4 separate regions of the Homo sapiens genome follow, and regions 1, 3 and 4 are each linked to region 2. The links come from fine-mapping of genetic effects on gene expression. A gene starts in region 2. Each other region holds a variant in brackets. All regions are shown on one strand. Distances are from middle to middle. Region 1 overlaps AP3B1 (adaptor related protein complex 3 subunit beta 1). Region 2 holds the start of AP3B1 (adaptor related protein complex 3 subunit beta 1). Region 3 overlaps AP3B1 (adaptor related protein complex 3 subunit beta 1). Region 4 overlaps AP3B1 (adaptor related protein complex 3 subunit beta 1).

Region 1 (5,877 bases), 150 kb after region 2:
GTAATAAGCACAAACCTATTTGCACAAAAAATATGGCAACCAAATAAATATGTAAAGGAAAAATCTATTCAAAATGTGAGGAGAAATTGATAAAATAGTTACAATGTGTGACTGTAATGTATTTCTCTCATATTAGATATTTCTAGTAGACAGATATAAGTAAGAAAATTAAGTAATCAAAAACTTATTTAGTAAATATAGCTAAAACCTTATATCTCTTGAACAGATAATACCCACTTTTAGGAGTATATCCAGTGAATATTTTCAAAAAATCAAGAATGTATTTAGGCATAAAGGAAGCTTAAAGATTTTGCATTCTTTGACCTTAAGCAATGAAATGAGACTTAAATAATTTAAAAGGGTACCAGACCAGTTGTAAAGTAAGAAATGTACTTTCAGATTAAAGAATGCATTTAAAGAAGAAATGCAAACTTTTTTCTAAAACCCAGGAAATAAAATGCTTTATTTCAAAACATGTAGGACATGGCTAAAGTTATAAAGATCACCATTTTTAAAGTATAGGGATATAAAATAAAAGAAAAACGAATCAAAACAGAAGAGGGATCAATGCTGATTTTGTAAAATAGAATACAAAAAATATATATGAGTTGAAAAGTACATGTTAAATCTGGTCTTTTGGAAAGAAAATAAAACAAAATTCCCTTCTAATTATTATGAAGCAGAGAGAGGTAACAAAAGTAGACAAATCTGGAATATGATAATAAAAGAAATTAAAATACAAGAAAGCTGTATGGAATTCTACAGCACACATTTGAACTTAAGGAGAATGAAAAGCTGATAATTAGTTGTTACTGCTCATCTAACGTATCTGAGGAAACTGAAGTGCTTGAAGGTGGGACAAGCAAGGAAGAATCAAAACAATTTGTTGTGCAGAACCCTCAAAATGGTCAACCACAAGTTACCCCAGGAGAAGGTGATGAGGGATGTAGCAGACATAACTTCAAAGTCAGGAAAGAAGAATGATTGAATCCCCAGAATCTCTCTGTTCCAGTCAGGAGAGCTGTTTATACAAGAACAATGGCCATGTGGAAATAAAAGCAGTGTTTTATTAATCCGACCAAGTACCTGATAACTCCTAAACGTAGGCAAGTGATTTTAAAATGTGAGCCTTAAAATAAGAGCCTTAAATGAGACTTCTGTCCTCCTGAATCTCTACCTATTTCACCATCAAACCCAGGAGTGTCATTCTAAAACACTGCAATTTTAGGAAAAGCCAGTCTGTCCAATATCTAAGGACAATGGGTCAATATTGAGCATGTTTTCCTTCAGTGCCTGAGCCACTTTATTAGGGCAGAATCCTGGGTCCATCTTTCTTCTGGAAGGAGAGAGAACAGAAGTGATAGCAAGACCTCTTCCCACCTGGCCACCTTACCTATCCTTAAAAGAAGAGGTGAAAGAAGTGGGAAAATGTCCCACTATACACGGGTGTGGGAACAGGCAAGAGGATGGCCTGGGTCTGCCCTGAAAATCTGGCTCTTGGGGAAATGGCAGGAGGCACTAAGGGAGCCATTGCACAATGTGGCAGACAAACAGAGGATGAAGGAATAATCCTTCATCTGATTAATAAGTAAATATGACCCCAGTGAGGTGAAGTTAATTGCCTCCTTGATGTAACACCATCAGTGTGGGATCAGAACCGGTCTCAACAGCTTGCTGACCAGTATTCTTCCTAGTTTACCACACTCATTTTGTCGCTACCCAGTGATCCAGTATGAATTTTGGATTCAGATTTGGAGTTCTGATCCTAGTTCCACCACTAACCAGCTGTGAGATGTGGGCAAGTTTCTTAACTCATTTGTTACCTAGTTTCCTCATATGTCTAGTGCAGATCATAGTAGAGCATACTTCATAGGGCTTTGGCGATGAATGACTGAGAAAATACGTAAAGCTCTCAAAAACAGTGCATGGCACATGGTAAGAGCTCAATAGATATTAGCTATGTAATTTGTTTTAAAAAGAGAACATAGATTTTATCATATTGAGGGCTTTGTTTTAATTGGTTATTTAGTAATAATTGAAAATATAAAAACTAAAGTTTAAATGTATTTTACATTTTGAATTCGGTCAAATCAAATAGATTTATGTCTGTAATACAGTCAACTTACATGTTCTGATTGTGAGTATTCTGTCCTTTGGCGTATCCTTCATTTATGATAAATACTGGTTTTGGAGTTCTTCTAGAATAAAATGCATACTATCAGCTGGCATGGTGGCTCATGCCTGTAATCCCAGAACTTTGGGAGGCTGAGGCGGGAGGATTGCTTGAGCCCAGGAGTTTGAGGTTGTAGTGAGCAATGATTGCACCACCGCACTCCAGCCTGGATGACAGAGTAAGACCCTGTCTTTAAAAAA[C/AAACAACAACAAC]AACAACAACAACAAAACAACCCATACTACCTGTGGATTGCTCTGACAGGATTTCACATAATGTTTAATGGGACAGATGGGATTTCATATCTTAACAACTGAAAGATGTTATTCTGTAAAAACTGAGTAATATTGAAATAGCACTTTGTATCCTTGTTGCCCAGATGCCTCACAGGATGCCTGCCATTTCACAAGTTACCCACCCTTTCTCTGGCACCCCATTGTAATTCAGGCTTAGGCTTTAATGCATATTGAGTCCAGATACAGAGTATTAGATCTGATTTGCTGTTGGTATGCAGTTTGCTTAGATGTCTACTGATTTTGCCTTTGACAAATTTAAATAAATGAAATTGATGTTTTTGTAGGGTTTACTTTGGACTGTTGCACTGTGCAGTGGGCTGGTGTTGAAACACAATAGCTTTTAAATTGAACTGCTTACAGAGTGATCTGCAAAATCTTTCTAGATGTCTTTCTATAGCTGCTGTGGTGAGCTAGGAATCATTATTTGTTTTTGCTGGCAAATTAATGGGTTGTGGTGGCCGTGGAAACTGCCTTCTAGTACAAGGTTTGAAAAGTGCATTTAATCACTTTCTCAGGGCATTTAGAATAAAGAATCAGGCAAAGTCATTTACAATCCAATTTGTCTTTGAGAATATTGAAAAGCAGAGCTTCATAATGAAAGTATTATATCATATGTATGACTCTGTGTGTGTGTCTGTACCTGTGTCTGTGTCTGTGTGTGTATTATTAGTTTGGTTTTATTTCAGTGTTCCTATTTATTTTGTGGTTAAAAAGACCATGGGGAACAAAAAGTGACTAATTTACTTTTCTTTTTTTTTTGAGACAGAGTCTCGCTCTGTCACCCAGGCTGGAGTGCAGTGGCACAATCTTAGCTCACTGCAACCTCTGCCTCCTGAGTTCAAGTGATTCTTTTACCTTAGCCTCCCAAGTAGCTGGAATTACAGGAGTGTGCCAGGCTAATTTTGTATATTTAGTAGAGACAGGGTATCACCATGTTGGCCAGGCTGGTCTCAAACTCCTGTCCTCAAGTGATCCACCCGCCTCAGCCTCCCAAAGTGCTGGGATTTTAGGCATGAGCCACTGTGCCTGGCCTCTAAAAAGTGACTAATTTTCTTACTTGCCTTTTTTTCAGGTGCTTCAAATCTTTGAAAGTAGTGGCTGTGAATTCATAGTGTCAATGGTGTATAAATGAGAGTCCTGTTGCTTAATGGGAAGAGAAAGGGAAAGCTGGAATCCAAAAATCTTAGTATTCTGATCCCATCCACCTGCTCAAAAATGTTGTCTTTGTCAGTTTCCTAAGCTTTGTAATACAATGCCATCACCAAAAGTTTGGTATATTTATATTGATATTATTTCTTGTGGTGAAGTTTTCTAAGTTTTAAAAATTCTTGGGGATTTTATTAGCTCAGTTCTAGAAAACTACAAATCTTATTCTCACCACCATCTTGAGATTTTTATTGTGAGCATTGTGATTTATTGATTTTTAATTTTTTCAAAGAGTTGTATTTTAAATATATGTATCGTGAGTGTTTACAGTATTCCAATATTTTAATTTTAATTTTAGTATATTCATGAATATAAACAATCTCTTTAAACATTACTTGTTTTTGGGATCGTCTTTTTAATTGCAAAAGATTGTTACCAGAAGAAAATTACTTAAAATGGGATAATAGATTATGGTATGTCATAGAATTCTGATTTTTATACTAGCAATATATAATAAAATATTTAAGAAAAATAAATCTAGCATAACTGAAATTTGAAGTTGCACATATATTCTTATTTAGAACTACCTTTCATTATGGCAGGCAACTTGAATTCCTCTATACTGGAAAATTTAATGTACCACTCAATTACTATTCTTTAGCCCAATTTAAAATAATAGATTGGGAGTAAGGTCTTAATGCAGTGTAACCTTTGGAACGTTAGAAATAACCTCTTTTCTTTCCAGAAATCAGTATGCAGTAAGGGCATCAGTTTTATCACACTGCATGAATAGATTTTTAATAGCACTTAGACCTTTTTCTAATTGCACAAGTATATGGATTTCTTGTGTCTCACCAAACATGCTAAATAATAATTTAAAGACATGCTGTTACACTGTTTTAAAATATATACCTTTTTATTTAAAAGCTTTTTTGATCATCTCATTCTGATTCTAGTGAAGGACTCAATATTGTAACTTAATATTTTTATATAATTTCATAATGTGGGTGTTTTGAAAGATTTTGCAATGGTAGATATTGTGATAAAATTTTAGCTATGGAAAGGTCCTTATTCTCACTTTTTTCTTTAACAATCCTACTATGTATAGCCATGAAACTACAGAAAATATTAGGACTTTGAGAAATTGTAAAAGGACTTCATAAAAAGAACATTATCTTTCCTCGTGATGCCACCTTTTAATGATAGCTGTCAGCCTTTTCACTTATTATAAAAAACAAATTTTCTGTGCGAGGTGAAAATGTTCACTGAAATGAATTTACACACCCTCTCAAATTCCTTTTGGAATAGGGGAGGATGCAAATAAGCAAATAGTAATAAAACTAATTTGCATACTCTAAATTGTTGGTCTTAATGGTACTGATGGAAGGTTTCCAATTTGTCACAAAGCAGTGACTTTTAAGAACATAAATTATATTGAAATGCAGTTTATTTAAAAATATAGTGCCAAAATGCAATATTGGACAAATTTATCCCTGTTTCTTTTGTTGACCAAATAATAGACTGGGATTCATGATTTTATAAGCAGACCTTGATGATCTTATCAGTTTGATATATTTCCAGTGTTGTAGATGCTAATACATAAAGAGCAAAAACAGTTTTGATTTGGAATCATAGTACCTAATTGATCTGTTTCTTTTTCTGTATTATCTGTGGGTTCTCAAATGGGCTTTGTGGACCACCTGTCTCAGGAGTCATCTGTGATGCTTTTTAAATTAAAACATAGATTTCTGGGCCCCACCACAGAAATACTATTTTGGAGCTGATCCCAGGACCTGTCTTTTTAGTAAGAACCCTGGATGATTTTTGTGGGCATTGAGGTTTGGGAACTGCTGTTCTAGAGCAGGGGTCAGCAAACCATTTCTATAAATTGCTAGACAGTCAATATTTTTGGCTTTGAGGACCATATGGTCTTCACTGTAACTATTTCTGCCATTATAGCACAAAAGCAGCAACAGATAATGGAGAAACAAATAGGTATGGGCAGCTAGACTGGCTTCTAGAATTTGTTCGTCTCTGATAGAATCTAGATTCTAGACCATCGGTTTTTGCTGTATGAATATTTTCTAAGATATTCTCTTCGAAATCAATTTTAATGAGATTTCCTATGTGTTTATTTTTTGATAACTGACGAAAATTCATAAATACAGGATTAATTCCTAGATATACATTAAATTAATTAATAGCTGTAAAACTTTTGTAATAGTTAAAACCTTTTCTATGTTAATATTAGAGTATGATTAACTTACTTCTAACTAT
Region 2 (5,877 bases):
TATTAATGTTTCTTCCAGTTGGAAGTGTGACTTTTTTTCCTCTGTCAGAAAACTTCATGGCTATATAAAAGATTTTTCAGTTCTGGAGATATGGGAAAGCTGGATCACAGCCCATGGAGTTATTACTTTTTATCTTTCTGTAAGAATATACAGTGTTAGAATTCTAAGGCAGTAAGGGCCTCAAGTCCCTTCTTGTCAATGCTCTCATTTTTTTATTTTTTTTTTAGTGATAAAAATAAAGTTTTACCTATTTCATCCAGGAATATATGCTTTGTATCTTATACGTAATATTCCAGAGAAAAAGAAAGTTACCTATACCTCTTTTTTGAAGAATAGATATTCTTAATATCCACACCATTCAAAGACAATGTAAAAACAAAACAAACAAAACCCCAAAAAACAAACCCCCAAAACCCAAAACCCCAATATTGTAGGTCAGTCTCCTACCTGAGTCTGTATGAAAAAATAAAAATATTACAAAATAAAATCAAGCAGTTAATTAAAAATAACAGACTCAATGATAAAGAACTCTTCAAGTCCATCAGAAAAACTACTCAGTGTAAAAGTGGATAAATAGGTTCATGTGCAATTCCCAGGAAATAAAATGCAAATGGAGTAACAATCACATAAAATATTCTCAAGTTCATTATGGCCATGAGAATGAAAATTAATTACAATACAAATAATATTCATTTGTATCATATTGATGACAATTAAACATTTTTAGAAAGCTAAACGTTTGTGAGAATGTGAAGAAAGAAGATTATCCACTGCTAAAAGTATGCTGGAAAAAAATTTAGGATATCTGGTAAAAGTGTACATGCTCTAAAACCAAGAAATTCTGTAATCAGGTATGTGTCCGAGATTTTCCAGGCTATGTGTATATCAATGTTCTCATTTTACAAATAAAGTAATCAAAGCCTAGCTCTTTTTACTATTAATATATATAAAACTACTTAGAACTTTTAATATATATTAAAAGTTAACTATTTTAACTTAAAAGTATTTATTTTAACTTAAAATAAATTTTTTTATATTAAAAGTTAACTACTTTAACTATTTATATATATAAAACTACTTAGAAGTTTTAATATATATAAAACTACTTATATCCTGGTATATATTAAGGATTATATAATAATATATAGTTATCTATGATCATCCTCATCCTCATCATCAATAGTCAGTTGTAGGTGAAATTCTATTAATTAATACTGACAAATAACACATTTTAGGTGCTCATCATTGGCTCTCCGGAGGAGTATTCTAACAGCTGAATTAAAAACCTGCCAATATTTGACCAGACGATCAAGTTTGGAGGACGTCCCTTCCTCTCCCACCCAGAGCCACGCTCTTGCGTGCTTCCACAGTGACAGTGTGACCTTTTGAAATTTGGAGATCATACTCTCATCCTTGAAAACGCCCCACCGCCTTCCCTGGGGCGGCCGGCCTCCAGGTTCGCGTTCTACCTGGTAGAATCCCTTGACAGTTTCAGTACCTGGCCGCCAGGGCTTTGGGTGTTAATGCCTTCCTTGGACGGGAGGCACTGGGGAGAAGAGAGGGAAGGCGCTGAAACCCACCTGAGAAGGCGGGCTGGGGGAAGGCACCCCGGGAAAGAGGTTTTCTCGGGTGCCAGCACCCGGAGAGAGCTACTCTGGGGCCAGGCAAGCATCCCGCCTAGGCTCCCTAGTGCATATTAGTGAGTAACACGACTGGCGCGCGAGGTGGTCCATTTTATTTTTGGTAGCTAGACGCCAATAGGACGCACCACTTCAGCTCCAAACGGGAACTGGTGGCCCCAAGATGTTTTCTTTTCTTTTTCATTTTTTTGAGACAGGGTCTCGCTCTGTCGCCCAGGCTGGAATGCAGTGGAGAGATCTCAACTCATCGCTACCCCCTCCTTCTGGGTTCGAGTGATCCTCCCACCTCAGCCTCAGTAGCTGGGACCACAGACACGCGCCACCACGCCGGCTAATTTTTATATTTTTTGCAGAGAAAGGGTCTCGCTATGTTGCCTAGGCTGGTCTCGAACTCCTGGCCTCAAGTGATCCACCCGCCTCGGCCTCCCAAAGTGCTGGAATTACTGGCGTGAGCCACCGCGCCCGGTCTGCCCCCAAGACTTTCATTGAAAAGATGGAATGGTCGCTTCTGTGCGGATCCTCCAAACCATCGTTGGGAGAGGCCTCCTTAAAGTCTAGGAGAAAAGTTGTTTGGGACCGATATGAAAGTAAGGCAAAGCCGGATGGAAGAGAGTAGCCGAAACAAGCAAGAAAAGGAAAAGCGATCGTGATGGGTTTAGGAAAGGTGATCTGGCGTGCTAAATGGCATTTCCGGAGAAATCTGAAAACTATTGCTTTACTGAAGTATAGCAAAGAGCTGTCCGGGCTCTGGAAACTCCTTAACGGATCAAAACGGATGCAATGGGTATCCTTCTCCAAAGACACACCTCAAACGGGCCGGGAGCCGGGCAGTTAGCCACCCGCTGCCTCCCCTTCCGCAGTCCGGCTCGCAGCCGCTCAGCTACCTCTAAAGCCCGGAGCAGGAAAGTCCGCGCAGGCCTGGATGGCCCGGGTGGTAATCTAGCAGGCCTGCACACTGCGCATGCGCAGGGGGTGGACTGCCAGGTCGGCTCAGGGAGCCGTGACGAGTCCGGAAGCGCCTGCGCGCGCTCCTCCGTACGAGAACTAGTTTTGTTCCGTGCCCTCTGGACTGGAACCTTTTGGAGAGAACCCCCGGCAGGACCAACCCCGCACCCGCCAGCACCGCGGCAATGTCCAGCAATAGTTTTCCTTACAATGAGCAGTCCGGAGGAGGGGAGGCGACGGAGCTGGGTCAGGAGGCGACCTCAACCATTTCCCCCTCGGGGGCCTTCGGCCTCTTTAGCAGCGATTTGAAGAAGTGAGGAGAAAGGTTTGGGTTGCGGGGATGGGAGGGAGGAGCTGCGGACTCGGAGGAGTGGGCGCCAGGGTGGGCTTCCTGGAGAGGAGCGGGGTCGCCCTGAGGTCTGAGCAGGGCAGGGCGGTAACGTGTCCCGCGGGTGGGTAGGTGGGGTTGGTTGGCGGTGGTGGGAGTTGTGGGAGTTTGGGGCGAATGTGTGTAGGGGTCTCTAGTAGTTTTCAAACTTTAGTGAAAAGGAAACCACTTGGTGAGCTTAGATCCCACCCCTGAAGACACTGATTGAATTGGACTTGGGCTGGGCTCAGGAGTCTGAATTTTGAGCATCGTCTTCTAGTTTATTTACCGTTCGCCGGATCAGACTTTAATACATTCCCTGATTAGGGTGAAAGGAGTGTTTTGGTGAAGGTGAGAGTGCGAGTGTTGCTTGTGGGAAGTTATTTTGTGACCCCGGAGTGTAGGAGCAGAGAGGTGGATTTAGGCTGTTTGAATGGACAAACTGGTTTACACCAGTATTAATGTTCTTGGATTATGTCCTTTGCACTACAGACAAAAACACCAATCCAAAATAAGCATATGAATAGAAAATATTTTAAAAGAGTGTTACTGTGAACAAATCCAAAACTTTTACAGATTAATAATGTGAATTTTAAAAACGAATGTTAAACAAGGTACACTTAGTTTTGTAAAAAGTATCACCGAGAAATGGAAAGAAATCCCAAGTTGTTTGTTTTGGGGGGTGGGTTGGTGGTAGTGGTTACATTTACCAGAATTATCATTTTTACATTTCTCTTATTTTAAATCTTTCATTACTAAGCAATAGGGTCACATAATAGTCTGTCACTAAATTCATGCTAAATTAAGGTAGAATAGCTGTGCTAGTAGCTTTGCAGATCTGTTAGAGGGTATAATTAAAATTTAAATTAAACGTTACTAACAATATTGGGTAGTCTAGAAAGTGCTACTACTTCAAATTGGGATTACATTTTGGCTGTATTGAGGATCAAAATCATATATATAGCATGTAAGATACAATCTTTTCCTTTTTCCCAAGGTTAGAAAAGTTTAAAAGTAAGGTAACTGATTTCATTTTTCATTATATGCATTTGATGATCCATTGTTCTAGAACAAGTACGGAGCTTGTTGCCTCTACTATTAGCAAAATGTTTAGACTGAATTAACCTGTATATCGGCATCAATCTGTTTCGCAAATTAATTTACTTTTATGGTTTGTGAACATCTACGATGTTTTCTCTTAGATTTTTGTCAGATTTGGGGCCAGGCACTGCGGCTCACGCCTGTAATCCCAGCACTTTGGGAGGGTGAGGTGGGCGGATCGCTTGAGGCCAGGAGTTCGAGACCAGCCTGGCCAACATGGTGAAACCCCGTCTCTACTAAAAATACAAAAATTAGCCGGGCGTGGTGGCTCGTGCCTGTAATCCCAGCTACTCGGGAGGCTGAGGCAGGAGAATCGCTTGAACCCGGGAGGCGGAAGCTGCAGTGAGCCGAGATCGCGCCACAGCACTCAAACGTGGGCGACAGAGTGAGACTCCGTCTCAAAAAAAGAAAAAAAAGAAAAAGATTTTTGTCAAATTTGGACCTGATTTGGAAAAAAAAAACAAAAAAAACTTACGGCTTTGACTCTGTGACCAGTGCTCTTGAGGTGACCTAACAGGTTGGATTTAAAATAAAAGTAGCTAATTGATTAGAGGTGATATGTAATATATGCAAATAACCATGGTTGAATTGTGTTCCCCGAAAGATATTTATTGAGTATTTGTGCACACCACTTTACATTTATTATCTCATTCAGTTTTCCTAAACAACCCTGCAGGTTATTACCAGGTACTTCTCTGCTCCCACTTTACACGTGAGGAAATTGGAGCAAGGTTGTTAACTTGGAAAAGGCCACAAAGGTAGAACATTGCACTGCCTGAATTTGAACTCAGGGGCTCTAATATTAGAGCCCATTCTCTCAAAAGTTTAGATGTGCTACTTACTACTTGATGAAATGTATGGTATTTTTATTAGTGAGTGCATACAACTCACAAAAAGTTTAAAACTTTAAATAGTAGCTCCAAGTAGTACCACCAGAGAAGCTTCCAGGGATTAGAAACATTTGGCTATTGACCTGCAGTCTAATGGAATTGTACAGAAACAAGGAGACCCCTGTTCTGGAAGTGGTCATTAAATCTCTCTTGAGTCCACATTTTCTCATTTATAAAACCGTAATATTACTTGCCTTTTAAAAAATCGAATGACAAAGTTTATATAAAAAACTTAAAGCTTACCCTATTCCTCACCTCTGGTTTTTAATGGTTTACTCTGATGAAATAGTTTCAAGTTTACAAAAAAGTTGCAACAATGACACAGAGAGCTACCCTTTTGCAGATTTACCAATTAAAAAAAAAATGCTACATTGCTTGCTTACTCTCTCTGCCACTCACTCTCCCCATGCATATTCAGGCACATATACGTATTCATGTTATTATGTCTTCTGAACCATTGGAGACTCAGTTGTACACATCATGTTCTTTTACAATGAAAATCTTAATGTGTAATTTTTAAGAACAAAGATATTCTCTTACGCAACTACAGTGTTGATGTATTCAGGAAATTAATCTAATTTTATCCTTTGTTCCAATAAAGTGTTTTTTTTCCCAAGCATTTTTTTCCTCAAGTACAGTTTCCAGTCCAAGATAATATATTTAATTTAGTTGCCATGTCTCTTTAATCTTCTTTAATCTGGGATAGTTCCTTAGCCTTTTTTGTCTTTCATGAATTTGACATATCTAAGGATTGCAAAGCCTATTATTTTATTTTATGTTAATCAGTTTTTGGGTTTGCTGGTGTTTCCTCATGTTTAGATTCAGGTTATGTATCCTTGGCTGGGATACTACCATAGGTGATGCATGCTTCTTGAACTATTACATTTGGAGGCATAGGTTGTCCATCTTCATGATGTTAATTTTCCTAGTCACA
Region 3 (5,877 bases), 170 kb after region 2:
GCTGAGTTTGTTGATTTTTACTCAAATCTGCATACTCTTAAGTACTCTTCAAAAGAGTTGCCTTATTTGTGCAATTTTTTTTTTTTTTTTTTTTTTTTTTTTTGAGACAGAGTCTTGCTCTGTCACCCAGGCTGCAGTGCAGGGGCATGATCTTGGCTCATTGCAAGCTCTGCCTCCCAGGTTCAAGCGATTCTCCTGCGTTAGCTTCCCAAGTAGCTGGGATTACAGCCACATGCCACCATGCTTGGCTAATTTTTGTATTTTTAGTAGAGATGGGGTTTCGCCATGTTGGCCAGGCTGGTCTCAAACTCGTGACCTCAAGTGATCTGCCCGCCTCAGCCTACCAAAGTGCTGGGATTACAGGTGTGAGTCACCGTGCCCAGCCTATTTGTGCAACTTTTGATCAGATACTAGAATATAAAGAGAGTGTTCTTTGTTATGGTTCCTCCTACGGACATACTTTCTCTCCTAATTTCTTATTATGCTTGTTTGTTGTTTTTATGGTTCGTTTTTTTTTTTCATTATGGGGTACATGATGTTTTAGCCCAAGTAGAACCATCCTTTTAACCTTCCCCTGCTTCCGCCTTATCTCTCCCTCCTTGCTGCCCCCACCCACCAAAAAGCATTATCTTCTCAGAGTTGATAGCAATGCTATGCAATTTAATTTGGTCTCAGCAGTATTCTTTATTGGCTGATAGATTGGTTTGTTGGCTGGCTTCTTCCATTTTCATGTGCTCTTCTAAGCATTAACTACCTTATAGGGACAGTACTTAAATATAACATATTATGTTCGTTTCACCTGTCCAATTCAACAGAGACAAATTAATTTCTTTTTCATTTTGCTGATTATATTTATGAAATTAATAATTGGTAACTTAGAGAGAATCATTATAACTGATTGAACATGGTTTGATAAAACTGTCACTGTCTGTTGATGCCATGCAGAAAACAGCTTCAGTCTATTGGACTCTGAGACAATTGGCTTAAAATTATACTATGAGGGACACAATTAAATATAAAAATAACGTAGATAGTTTTCTTTTTAAATGCAGCTACAATACAAAAAATAATGTCCGTATTATCTTTCTTGTCTCTCACTCTACTTCATCTCCCTTCCAAGTCATGTCACTGTATTTCATGCATATAATATACTATGTTATTCTAGTTTTCCTGTAAAGTGATCTTACATGGTCAAGTCCTGTAACTGTGAAATATAACTTAGTAAGAAAAATGACCTAGGTTTAGATAATCTGATATTTTAATCAAAATGACTGGGAACCTAGTCAGATTGACAGTAGAAGTCACTTTGAATTACACACCACCATTTCTAGGATATAGGATATAATATATATTTATATTATGATCCCAGTAAGTTTTGAAGATCCTTAGTTAATAATTTATTTGCTTAGTTCTAGAAAGTCCTTTCTTCTCTACTGACAGAAAGACCGCCTTCTGCATATGAAGGGTATTTTGCTTCATAAACACATCTGTCAATATTTTATCCTTTACAGAAACTTTCAAATTAGCGTCTATGTTCTCTTCTTTTCTTTTCTTTTCTTTTCCCTATTATTCCTTTTCCTTACAATGATAATGTGGTCTTTTAGTCATAAAGGACCACAATACAAATTAAGATACTTTTATTGTTCGTCTTTGGCCTTTTAAAACCTGAAACTCCATAGAATTCATGGCCATGTCAAGAAAAAATGCACGTTTGAGCATAGAAGTCTGGTTTTCCGAAATTGTTGATTTAGTGTTATTAAATTAATCCAACAAACGTTTTATCAGACCTCAGAGAAATATGTTTGGATTTAAGAAAAATATGGACTTCAGAGTTTACCAAATATAAGAGAGCTTTGTTTATAGAATACTATCTTTGTAGACAGAAGCATTTTAAATAAATATAAAAGAAAGCCATACTGCTGATCTTATATAAGCATCTTATTCAAATATATTCAAGCTTCTCTTTTTAAGCAACATACCTTAAACCCTCTAGATCAGTGGTTTTATTTTTATTTGCTTTTATTTATTTTTTTGAGACATGATTTTGCTCTGTCACCCAGGCTGGAGTGCAGTGGTGCGATCATAGCTCACTGCAGCCTCAAACTCCTGGGCTCAAGCCATCCTCCTGCCTCAGCTCCCAAAGTGCTGAGAGTACAGGTATGAGCTACATCACCCAGCCTTAGACTAGTGGTTTTTAAATGTAGCTGCGCATTATAATCATATGGAGATTTTGTGTGTGTGTGTGTGTTTAATTTTTATTTTATTATTATACTTTTAGGGTACATGTGCACAATGTGCAGGTTTGTTACATATGTATACATGTGCCATGTTGGTGTGCTGCACCCATTAACTCGTCATTTAGCATTAGGTATATCTCCAAATGCTATCCCTCCCCACTCGCCCCACCCCACAACAGTCCCTGGAGTGTGATGTTCCCCTTCCTGTGTCCATGTGTTCTCATTGTTCATTTCCCACCTATGAGTGAGAACATGTGGTGTTTGGTTTTTTGTCCTTGTGATAGTTTGCTGAGAATGATGGTTTCCAGTTTCATCCATGTCCCTACAAAGGACATGAACTCATCATTTTTTATGGCTGCATAGTATTCTATGGTGTATATGTACCACATTTTCTTAATCCAGTCTGTCGTTGTTGGACATTTGTGTTGGTTCCAAGTCTTTGCTATTGTGAATAGTGCCGCAATAAACATACATGTGCCTGTGTCTTTATAGCAGCATGATTTATAATCCTTTGGGTATATACCCAGTAATGGGATGGCTGGGTCAAATGGTATTTCTAGTTCTAGATCCCTGAGGAATCGCCACACTGACTTCCACAATGGTTGAACTAGTTTACAGTCCCACCAACAGTGTAAAAGTGTTCCTATTTCTCCACATCCTCTCCAGCACCTGTTGTTTCCTGACTTTTTAATGATTGCCATTCTAACTGGTGTGAGATGGTATCTCATTGTGGTTTTGATTTGCATTTCTCTGATGGTCAGTGATGACGAGCATTTTTTCATGTGTTTTTTGGCTGCATAAATGTCTTCTTTTGAGAAGTGTCTGTTCACATCCTT[C/T]GCCCACTTTTTGATGGGGTTGTTTGTTTTTTTCTTGTAAATTTGTTTGAGTTCATTGTAGATTCTGGATATTAGCCCTTTGTCAGATGAGTAGGTTGCAAAAATTTTCTCCCATTCTGTAGATTGCCTGTTCACTCTGATGGTAGTTTCTTTTGCTGTGCAGAAGCTCTTTAGTTTAATTACGTCCCATTTGTCAATTTTGGCTTTTGTTACCATTGCTTTTGGTGTTTTAGACATGAAGTCCTTGCCCATGCCTCTGTCCTGAATGGTATTGCCTAGGTTTTCTTCTAGGGTTTTTATGGTTTTAGATCTAACATTTAAGTCTTTAATCCATCTTGAATTAATTTTTGTATAAGGTGTAAGGAAGGGATCCAGTTTCAGCTTTCTACATCTGGCTAGCCAGTTTTCCCAGCACCATTTATTAAATAGGGAATCCTTTCCCCGTTGCTTGTTTTTCTCAGGTTTGTCAAAGATCAGATGGTTGTAGATATGCGGCATTATTTCTGAGGGCTCTGTTCTGTTCCATTGATCTATATCTCTGTTTTGGTACCAGTACCATGCTGTTTTGGTTACTGTAGACTTGTAGTATAGTTTGAAGTCAGATGGCATGATGCCTCCAGCTTTGTTCTTTTGGCTTAGGATTGACTTGGCGATGCGGACTCTTTCTTGGTTCCATATGAACTTTAAAGTAGTTTTTTCCAATTCTGTGAAGAAAGTCATTGGTAGCTTGATGGGGATGGCATTGAATCTATAAATTACCTTGGGCAGTATGGCCATTTTCACGGTATTGATTCTTCCTACCCATGAGCATGGAATGTTCCTCCATTTGTTTGTATCCTCTTTTATTTCATTGAGCAGTGGTTTGTAGTTCTCCTTGAAGAGGTCCTTCCCATCCCTTGTAAGTTGGATTCCTAGGTATTTTATTCTCTTTGAAGCAATTGTGAATGGGAGTTCACTCATGATTTGGCTCTCTGTTTGTCCGTTATTGGTGTATAAGAATGCTTGTGATTTTTGCACATTGATTTTGTATCCTGAGACTTTGCTGAAGTTGCTTATCAGCTTAAGGAGATTTTGGGCTGAGACGATGGGTTTTCTAGATAAACAATCATGTCATGTGCAAACAGGGACAATTTGACTTCATCTTTTCCTAATTGAATGCCCTTTATTTCCTTCTCCTGCCTAACTGCCCTGGCCAGAACTTCCAACCCTATGTTGAATAGGAGTGGTGAGAGAGGGCATCCCTGTCTTGTGCCAGTTTTCAAAGGGAATGCTTCCAGTTTTTGCCCATGCTGTATGATATTGGCTGTGGGTTTGTCATAGATAGCTCTTATTATTTTGAGATACATCCCATCAATACCTAATTTATTGAGAGTTTTTAGCATGAAGGGTTGTTGAATTTTGTCAAAGGCCGTTTCTGCATCTATTGAGATAATCATGTGGTTTTTGTCTTTGGTTCTGTTTATATGCTGGATTACATTTATTGATTTGTGTATGTTGAACCAGCCTTGCATCCCAGGGATGAAGCCCACTTGATCATGGTGGATAAGCTTTTTGATGTGCTGCTGGATTCGGTTTGCCAGTATTTTATTGAGTATTTTTGCATCAATGTTCATCAAGGATATTGGTCTAAAATTCTCTTTTTTGGTTTGTGTCTCTGCCAGGCTTTGGTATCAGGATGATGCTGGCCTCCTAAAATGAGTTAGGGAGGCTTCCCTCTTTTTCTATTGATTGGAATAGTTTCAGAAGGAATGGTACCAGCTCCTCCTTGTACCTCTGGTAGAATTCGGCTGTGAATCCATCTGGTCCTGGACTTTTTTTGGTTGGTAAGCTACTGATTATTGTCACAATTTCAGAGCCTGTTATCGGTCTATTCAGAGATTCAACTTCTTCCTGGTTTAGTCTTGGGAGGGTGTATGTATCAAGGAATTTATCCATTTCTTCTAGATTTTCTAGTTTATTTGCGTAGAGATGTTTGTAGTGTTCTCTGATGGTAGTTTGTATTTCTGTGGGATCAGTGGTGATATCCCTTTTATCATTTTTTATTGCATCTATTTGATTCTTCTCTCTTTTCTTCTTTATTAGTCTTGCTAGCAGTCTATCAATTTTGTTGATCTTTTCAAAAAAGCAGCTCCTGGATTCATTGATTTTTTTGAAGGGTTTTTTCTGTCTCTATTTCCTTCAGTTCTGCTCTGATTTTAGTTATTTCTTGCCTTCTGCTAGCTTTTGAATGTGTTTGCTCTTGCTTTTCTAGTTCTTTTAATTGTGATGTTAGGGTGTCAATTTTGGATCTTTCCTGCTTTCTCTTGTGGGCATTCAGTGCTATAAATTTCCCTCTACACACTGCTTTGAATGTGTCCCAGAGATTCTGGTATGTGGTGTCTTTGTTCTCGTTGGTTTCAAAGAACATCTTTATTTCTGCCCTCATTTTGTTATGTACCCAGTAGTCATTCAGGAGCAGGTTGTTCAGTTTCCATGCAGTTGAGCGGTTTTGAGTGAGTTTCTTAATCCTGAGTTCTAGTTTGATTGCACTGTGGTCTGAGAGACAGTTCGTTATAATTTCTGTTCTATTACATTTGCTGAGGAGTGCTTTACTTCCAACTATGTGGTCAATTTTGGAATAGGTGTGGTGTGGTGCTGAGAAGAATGTATATTCTGTTGATTTGGGGTGGAGAGTTCTGTAGATGTCTATTAGGTCTGCTTGGTGCAGAGCTGAGTTCAATTACTGGGTATCCTTGTTAAATTTCTGTCTCGTTGATCTGTTTAATGTTGACAGTAGGGTGTTAAAGTCTCCCATTATTAATGTG
Region 4 (5,877 bases), 250 kb after region 2:
TAGGCTTTTATAAGGGGACTGTTAGCAAATCTATTCAGCCTTTGCCCCAGAGGGAGATTTTGTCTTTCTAATCCTGGACAATGAACAAACAAATCTATCACCTGCCCCAGAGGGAGGCATTACCTCTGTCTTCCAAAGGCTGTTTGCTGTGGAAACATCTTTGAAAAGAGCTTCAGAAGCAAAGTTGCTAATGTTTCTGCTCAGAAGACGTGAGACCTGTAGAGCCCTTTTTGGCACCAGGGACCCGTTTTGTGGAAGACAGTTTTTCCATGGACCGTTGGGAATAGGGGGATGGTTCTGGGATGAAACTGTTCCACCTCAGATTATCAGGCAGGCGTTAGATGCTCATAAGGGGCGTGCTGCCTAGATCCCTCGCATGCGCAGTTCACAATAGGGTTTGCACTCCTATGAGGATCTAATGCCACTGCTGATCTGACGGGAGGCAGAGCTCAGGCGGTAATGCTTGCTCTCATCAGCCACTCACCTCCTGCTGTGCGGCCGGATTCCTGACAACCCATGGCCTGGTACAGGTCCATAGCCCAGGGACTGGGGACCCTCTGCTGTAGAGAATTGTTTCCAACAACAAGGGAAGGGAAGTGGAATGGCAAGGATCTAACATTTGTGCCCTTAGATCGGGGGTCAGCAAACTTTTTTTGTAAAGGTACCAGATAGTAAATGTTTTAGGTATTACAACTACTCACCTCTGCCATTGTAGAGTAAAAAAGCAGTCAAGGACAGTATGTAAATGAAAGAATATGGTTGTGTTCCAGTGATACTTTTTAAAAATAGGCAGCAGGCCATATTTGGCTTGTGGGTTATAGTTTGCAACCTCTGCCCTACATGTATTGTGTTTAGACTTATTAAATCTTCCCTTTTTCTTAAACCCTCATTTTCACAGCCCAAATCTAGATCACTTTATAATTATGTTTTATCTTTTTTTGCATCTAATAAAATCATTGTTGTCTATAAAATATGAAGTCAAGAACGCCATTTGCAATGTTGAGCATCTTAGAATATAAGCAGCCACAGATCTCATATGTATTTCTGGAATATAGGTATCTGGTCTGATGTACAAAATATTGAACTAAAGTCTAAATATATGTTAATATTAATATAACACTGGATTAAATGTATTATATGTGGAAGTAGTCGAAGTATTTATGGAACCCACTCGGTTTATTGAACAAAATATCACCTATGTATTTTATCTAGATGCTGGAGAAGTTTGGCGTAATATGACTTGTATAAACTTAGGAAACAAGGTTAAAAAAGTAATCAAACATTTTCTTTTTCTTTGTGTTTTTTTTTTTTTTTTTTTTGAGACAGAGCCTTGCTTCATCACCCAGACTTGAGGACAGTGGCACTATCTCAGGTCACTGCAACCTCCACTTCCTGGGTTCAAGTAGTCCTCCCACCTCAGCCTCCCAAGTATCTGGAATTACAGGTGCATGCCACCACGCCCAGCTAATTTTTCCATTTTTAGTAGAGATGGGGTTTCACCATGTTGGCCAGGCTGGCCTCAGACTCCTGACCTCAAGTGATCCACCCATCTTGGCCTCCCAAAGTGCTGGGATTACAGGCATGAGCCACCACACCTGGCTATGTTTTCATTTACTACCTTTCTGTAGTTAAACAAGTATATATTATTACCACGAAGTGTCATTTATGATCCTGTTTATTGTGAAAGAGTGCATAGACCTCTGGGAATTATCACAGATAACCTTTGGAGGTTGTAAGGGAGGGCCTTTTTAGACGGTGAATTCATTAGAGAATGCTTTTTACCTTGAACTTGGTTGAATGTGGAAAGAATGAGTGGAGAGAATTATACTGTTTTTCTTTCTTTATTCATCCCTTAACATATTTTTTGATAATTATAATAAAGCTGTAGAATTTTGAGACAAAGTTGAAAACACAAAATAAATGTTTGGACCATGCATCCTAGGATTAGACTGAGAGAAGGAATCAGTGAGTCTGCCAAGGCTTGATGGCTCTTAAATGACTAAAGGCATACTTCTAACCACCTTGTATGATATCTACAGTACTGATTCCTGGCCGCTGTGAACCAGACCTTTGTTCTGTTCTGCTCTAGTCCCACTCCTCTACCCTTGCCTTTCTCCAACTTTCAAATAGTCTTCCCTTTTACATTACAGTTTCAGCTTTCTTTCCCCGATATTATATGTAGGCCAACTTTTTATGAATTTCCACAGAGATAAAGCTGGCTACATCAACATTTATTTAATGATTTGATAACAAATATGTTTGTGGAACAATGTAGAATAAAAGTAAGACCTGTCACTGTCTCTAATATGCTTATCATTAAGGAAATAAACATGTAACACTGAAAAATATAATTAGCCAGATAAGAGCTTATATTTAAGGTTGATTATCATAGCCTTAGTAGCATGGGAATTTATGGCAAAAAAGAAAACTTTTGCTGAGTATAAATCTATAAATATAAAATATATAGCTCTGGAGTCATCCCAGTACAGCCTTGGTGCCATGTGCATGTCGGAGAGTCCCAGCCCACCTTGCTCTCTAGTACTTGTAGCCTTTTTCTTTCGAGATGCCTGAGAAAGTGCACGTGGAGCGGAGGAGCTGGAAACTTGCCTTTCAGGCAGATATTGCCCAACTCATGTCTCTCGTCATCAATACCTTCTATTCTAACAAGGAGATTTTC[C/T]TTCAGGGGTTGATCTAATGTTTCTGATGCATTGGACAAGATTTCCTGTAAGAGCCTGACAAACCCTTCCAAGTTGGACAATGGTAAAGAGCTGGAAGTTAACATCATCCCCAACCCATGGTAATGGTTCCCAAATTAGGAGATCAGCCTTGGTCATGTCAATGCCTGTGTCTACCAAAGTCAGGGTGTATTCCCTGGTACTAAAGGATTTATGGAGGCTCTTCAGGCTAGTGTAGATATCTCCATGATTGGGCAGTTTGGTGCTGCCTTTTTTTCTGCCTACCTTGTGGCAGAGAAAGTAGTTGTGATCACAAAGCACAACAATGATGAAGAGTATGCCTGGGAGTCTCTGCTGGGGGTTCCTTCACTGTATGTGCTGACCATGGAGAGCCCATTGGCAGGGGTACCAAAGTGACCCTCCACCTTAAAGAAGACCAGACAGAGTACTTAGAAGAGAGGAAGGTCAAAGAAGTAGTGAAGAGCACTTACAGTTCATAGCCTATCCCATTACCCTTTCTTTGGAGAAGGAAAGAGAGGAGAAAATCAGTGATGATAGGCAGAGGAAGAGAAAGGTGAGAAAGAAGAGGAAGATAGGCCAGGCACAATGGCTCATGCCTGTAATCCCAGGACTTTGGGAGGCTGAGGTGGCAGATCGATTGAACTCAGGAGTTTGAGACCAGCCTAGCCAACATGGTGAAACCCCAACTCTTTAAAAGATACAAAAAATTAGGCGGTCATGGTGGTGCGCACCTTAGGTCCCAGCTACTTGTGGGGCTGAAGTGGGAGGATCCACCAGGAGGTGGAGGTTGCAGTGAGCTCATATCACACCACCGCACTCCAGCCTGGACGACAGAGTGTTACACCATCTCAAAACAAACAAAAAAAGGCAGATAGAGATGATGAGAAAAAGTCCAAGATTGAAGAAGATGTGGGTGGGTTCAGATGAAGAGGAGGACAATGGTAAGGATAAGAAAAAGAAAACCAACAAGATCAAGGAGAAATCATTGATTGGGAAGAACTAAACAAGATCAAGAACATTTGGATCAGAAACTCTGATGACATTCACCCAGGAGGAGTATAGAGAATTCTACAAGAGCTTCACCAGTGACTAGGAAGACCATTTGGCAGTCAAGCACTTCTCTGTAGAAGGTTGGTTGGAATTCAGAGCATTGCTGTTCATCCCTTGTTTGGCTCCCTTTGACTTCTTTGAGAATGAGAAGAAAAAAAGAACAACAAACTCTGTGTCCATCATGTGTTCATCATGGACAGCCATGATGATATAAGAGTATCTCAACTTTAATCCTTGGTGTGGTTGACTTGGGATCTGCCCCTGAACATCTCTCGAGAAATGCTCCAACAGAGCAGAATCTTAACAGTCATTCACAGAAACATTGTTAAGAAGTGCCTTGAGCTGTTCTCTGAGGTGGCAGAAGACAAGGAGAATTGCAAGAAATTCAATGAGGCCTTATCTAAAAATCTAAAGCTTGGGCCAGTTGTGGTATCTCACCTCTGTAATCTCAGCACTTTGGGAGGCCAAGGCAGGAGGATTGCTGGAAGCCAGGAGTTTGATACCAGCCTGGGCTGCAAAGCAAGACACCATCACAACAAAAAATAAAAAAAATTAACCCAGCATGGTGGTACACACCTGTAGTCCAAGCTACCTGAGGCAAGAGGATCACTTGAGCCCACGAGTTCCAGGCTGCAGTGAGCTATGATTGCACCACTGCACTCCAGCCTGGATGACAGAGTGAAACCCCTATCTATAAAAAAAAAATAAATAAAATTTTAGAATTTCAAAAATTAAAATCTAAAGCTTGGAATCCACAAAGACTCCACTAGCCAGTGACGCATGTCCTAGCTGCTGCAGTATCACACTTCCCAGTCTGGAGATGAGATGACATCTGTGTCAAAATATGTCTCCTGCATGAAAGAGGCACAGAAATCCATCTATAGCATCACTGGTGAGAGCAAAGAGCAGGTGGCCAGCTCTGTGTTTGTGGAGCAAGTGCAGAAGTGGGGCTTTGAATTAGTATATACAGCCAAGCCCACTGATGAGTACTGCGTGCAGCAGCTCAAGGAGTTTGATGGGAAAAGCCTGGTCTCAGTTACCAAGGAGAGTCTGCAGCTGCCTGAGTGAGCTGAGATCGCACCACTGCACTCCAGCCTGGCGACAGAGCGAGACTCTGTCTCAAAAAAAAAGAAAAGAAAGAAAGGAAACAGAAGAGTTTTGAAAATAGTTTTTATTCAAGGAAAAGAACCTAACCTTAGAAGTGAAAGTGCTTTGAAAACTTAAAATACTAGATTGTTATCATCATCAGAAGGCTTAAATAGAATGAATAGGCCAGTAGCCCTATTATTTTATATAACCAAAATTTTAAATTTAGCTAATTGTTTATTATATTTTACAAATAAACTATCCCATAAATTTTTATGATTATTATTTTATTATTATTATTTTTTTTTTGAGACAGGGTCTTGCTCTGTCACCCAGGCGGGAGTGCAGTGACCTAATCATGGCTCACTGCAGCCTCAACTTCCTGAGCTCAGGCAATCCTCCCACCTCAGCCTCCTGAGTAGCTGGGACTACAGGCGCAATGCACCACACCCAGCTAATTTTTTACATTTTCTCTAGAGACAGGATCTCACCATGTTGCCCAGGCTGGTTCTCAAACTCCTGGGCTCAAGTGATCCTCCTACCTCGGCCTCTCGAAGTGCTGAGATTAGAGGTGATGATTTTTTTTTTTTTTTGAGACGGAGTTTTGCTCTTGTTGCCCAGGCTGGAGTGCAATGGCGCGATCTCAGCCCACAGCAACCTCCGCCTCCCAGGTTCAAGCCATTCTCCTGCCTCAGCCTCCAGAGTAGCTGGAATTACAGGCATGCGCCACCATACCCGGTTAATTTTGTATTTTTAGTAGAGACAGGGTTTCTCCATGTTGATCAGGCTGGTCTCAGACTCCGGACCTCAGGTGATCCACCCACCTCGGCCTCCCAAAGTGTTGGAATTACAGGCGTGAGCCACCGCGCCTGGCCAGAGGTGATGATTATTTTAAATTGCCCACATTTTTTGTTGCACTTTTAGAGAAAGAATACTATGTTTTGATGATGCTTAGAAGGCATGATGTAGCATTTTGTATATATGATATTTAACTCTTGGATTTTTGTGGAACTTTAAATCATTACTATAATTGCTACGTTTGTAA

What was found.
Region 1: its variant is fine-mapped to the expression of AP3B1 in whole blood (INTERVAL, PIP above 0.99).
Region 3: its variant is fine-mapped to the expression of AP3B1 in whole blood (TOPMed, PIP 0.96).
Region 4: its variant is fine-mapped to the expression of AP3B1 in whole blood (INTERVAL, PIP above 0.99). The same link has a PIP of 0.9 or more in T cells, blood mononuclear cells, lung, monocytes, monocytes after R848 and neutrophils.

Annotation. Positions count from the first base shown.
Region 1 is chr5:78,141,341-78,147,217 of GRCh38, reverse strand. The region is part of intron 14 of AP3B1 (adaptor related protein complex 3 subunit beta 1); the gene reads left to right. Among named protein-coding and RNA genes, the nearest start is that of AP3B1, 150 kb to the left of the region's middle. The variant C/AAACAACAACAAC (reference allele first, on the strand shown) is at 2,374.
Region 2 is chr5:78,291,473-78,297,349 of GRCh38, reverse strand. It overlaps AP3B1 (adaptor related protein complex 3 subunit beta 1), which reads left to right and starts at 2,652. Exons shown (of 27, transcript NM_003664.5): 1 at 2,652-2,898. The coding sequence starts at 2,771. RefSeq lists enhancers at 1,392-1,441, 1,816-2,389.
Region 3 is chr5:78,120,731-78,126,607 of GRCh38, reverse strand. All of the region lies in intron 17 of AP3B1 (adaptor related protein complex 3 subunit beta 1), which reads left to right. Among named protein-coding and RNA genes, the nearest start is that of AP3B1, 170 kb to the left of the region's middle. The variant C/T (reference allele first, on the strand shown) is at 3,074.
Region 4 is chr5:78,040,823-78,046,699 of GRCh38, reverse strand. All of the region lies in intron 22 of AP3B1 (adaptor related protein complex 3 subunit beta 1), which reads left to right. It also overlaps the pseudogene LOC100422441. Among named protein-coding and RNA genes, the nearest start is that of AP3B1, 250 kb to the left of the region's middle. RefSeq lists an enhancer at 182-758. The variant C/T (reference allele first, on the strand shown) is at 2,678.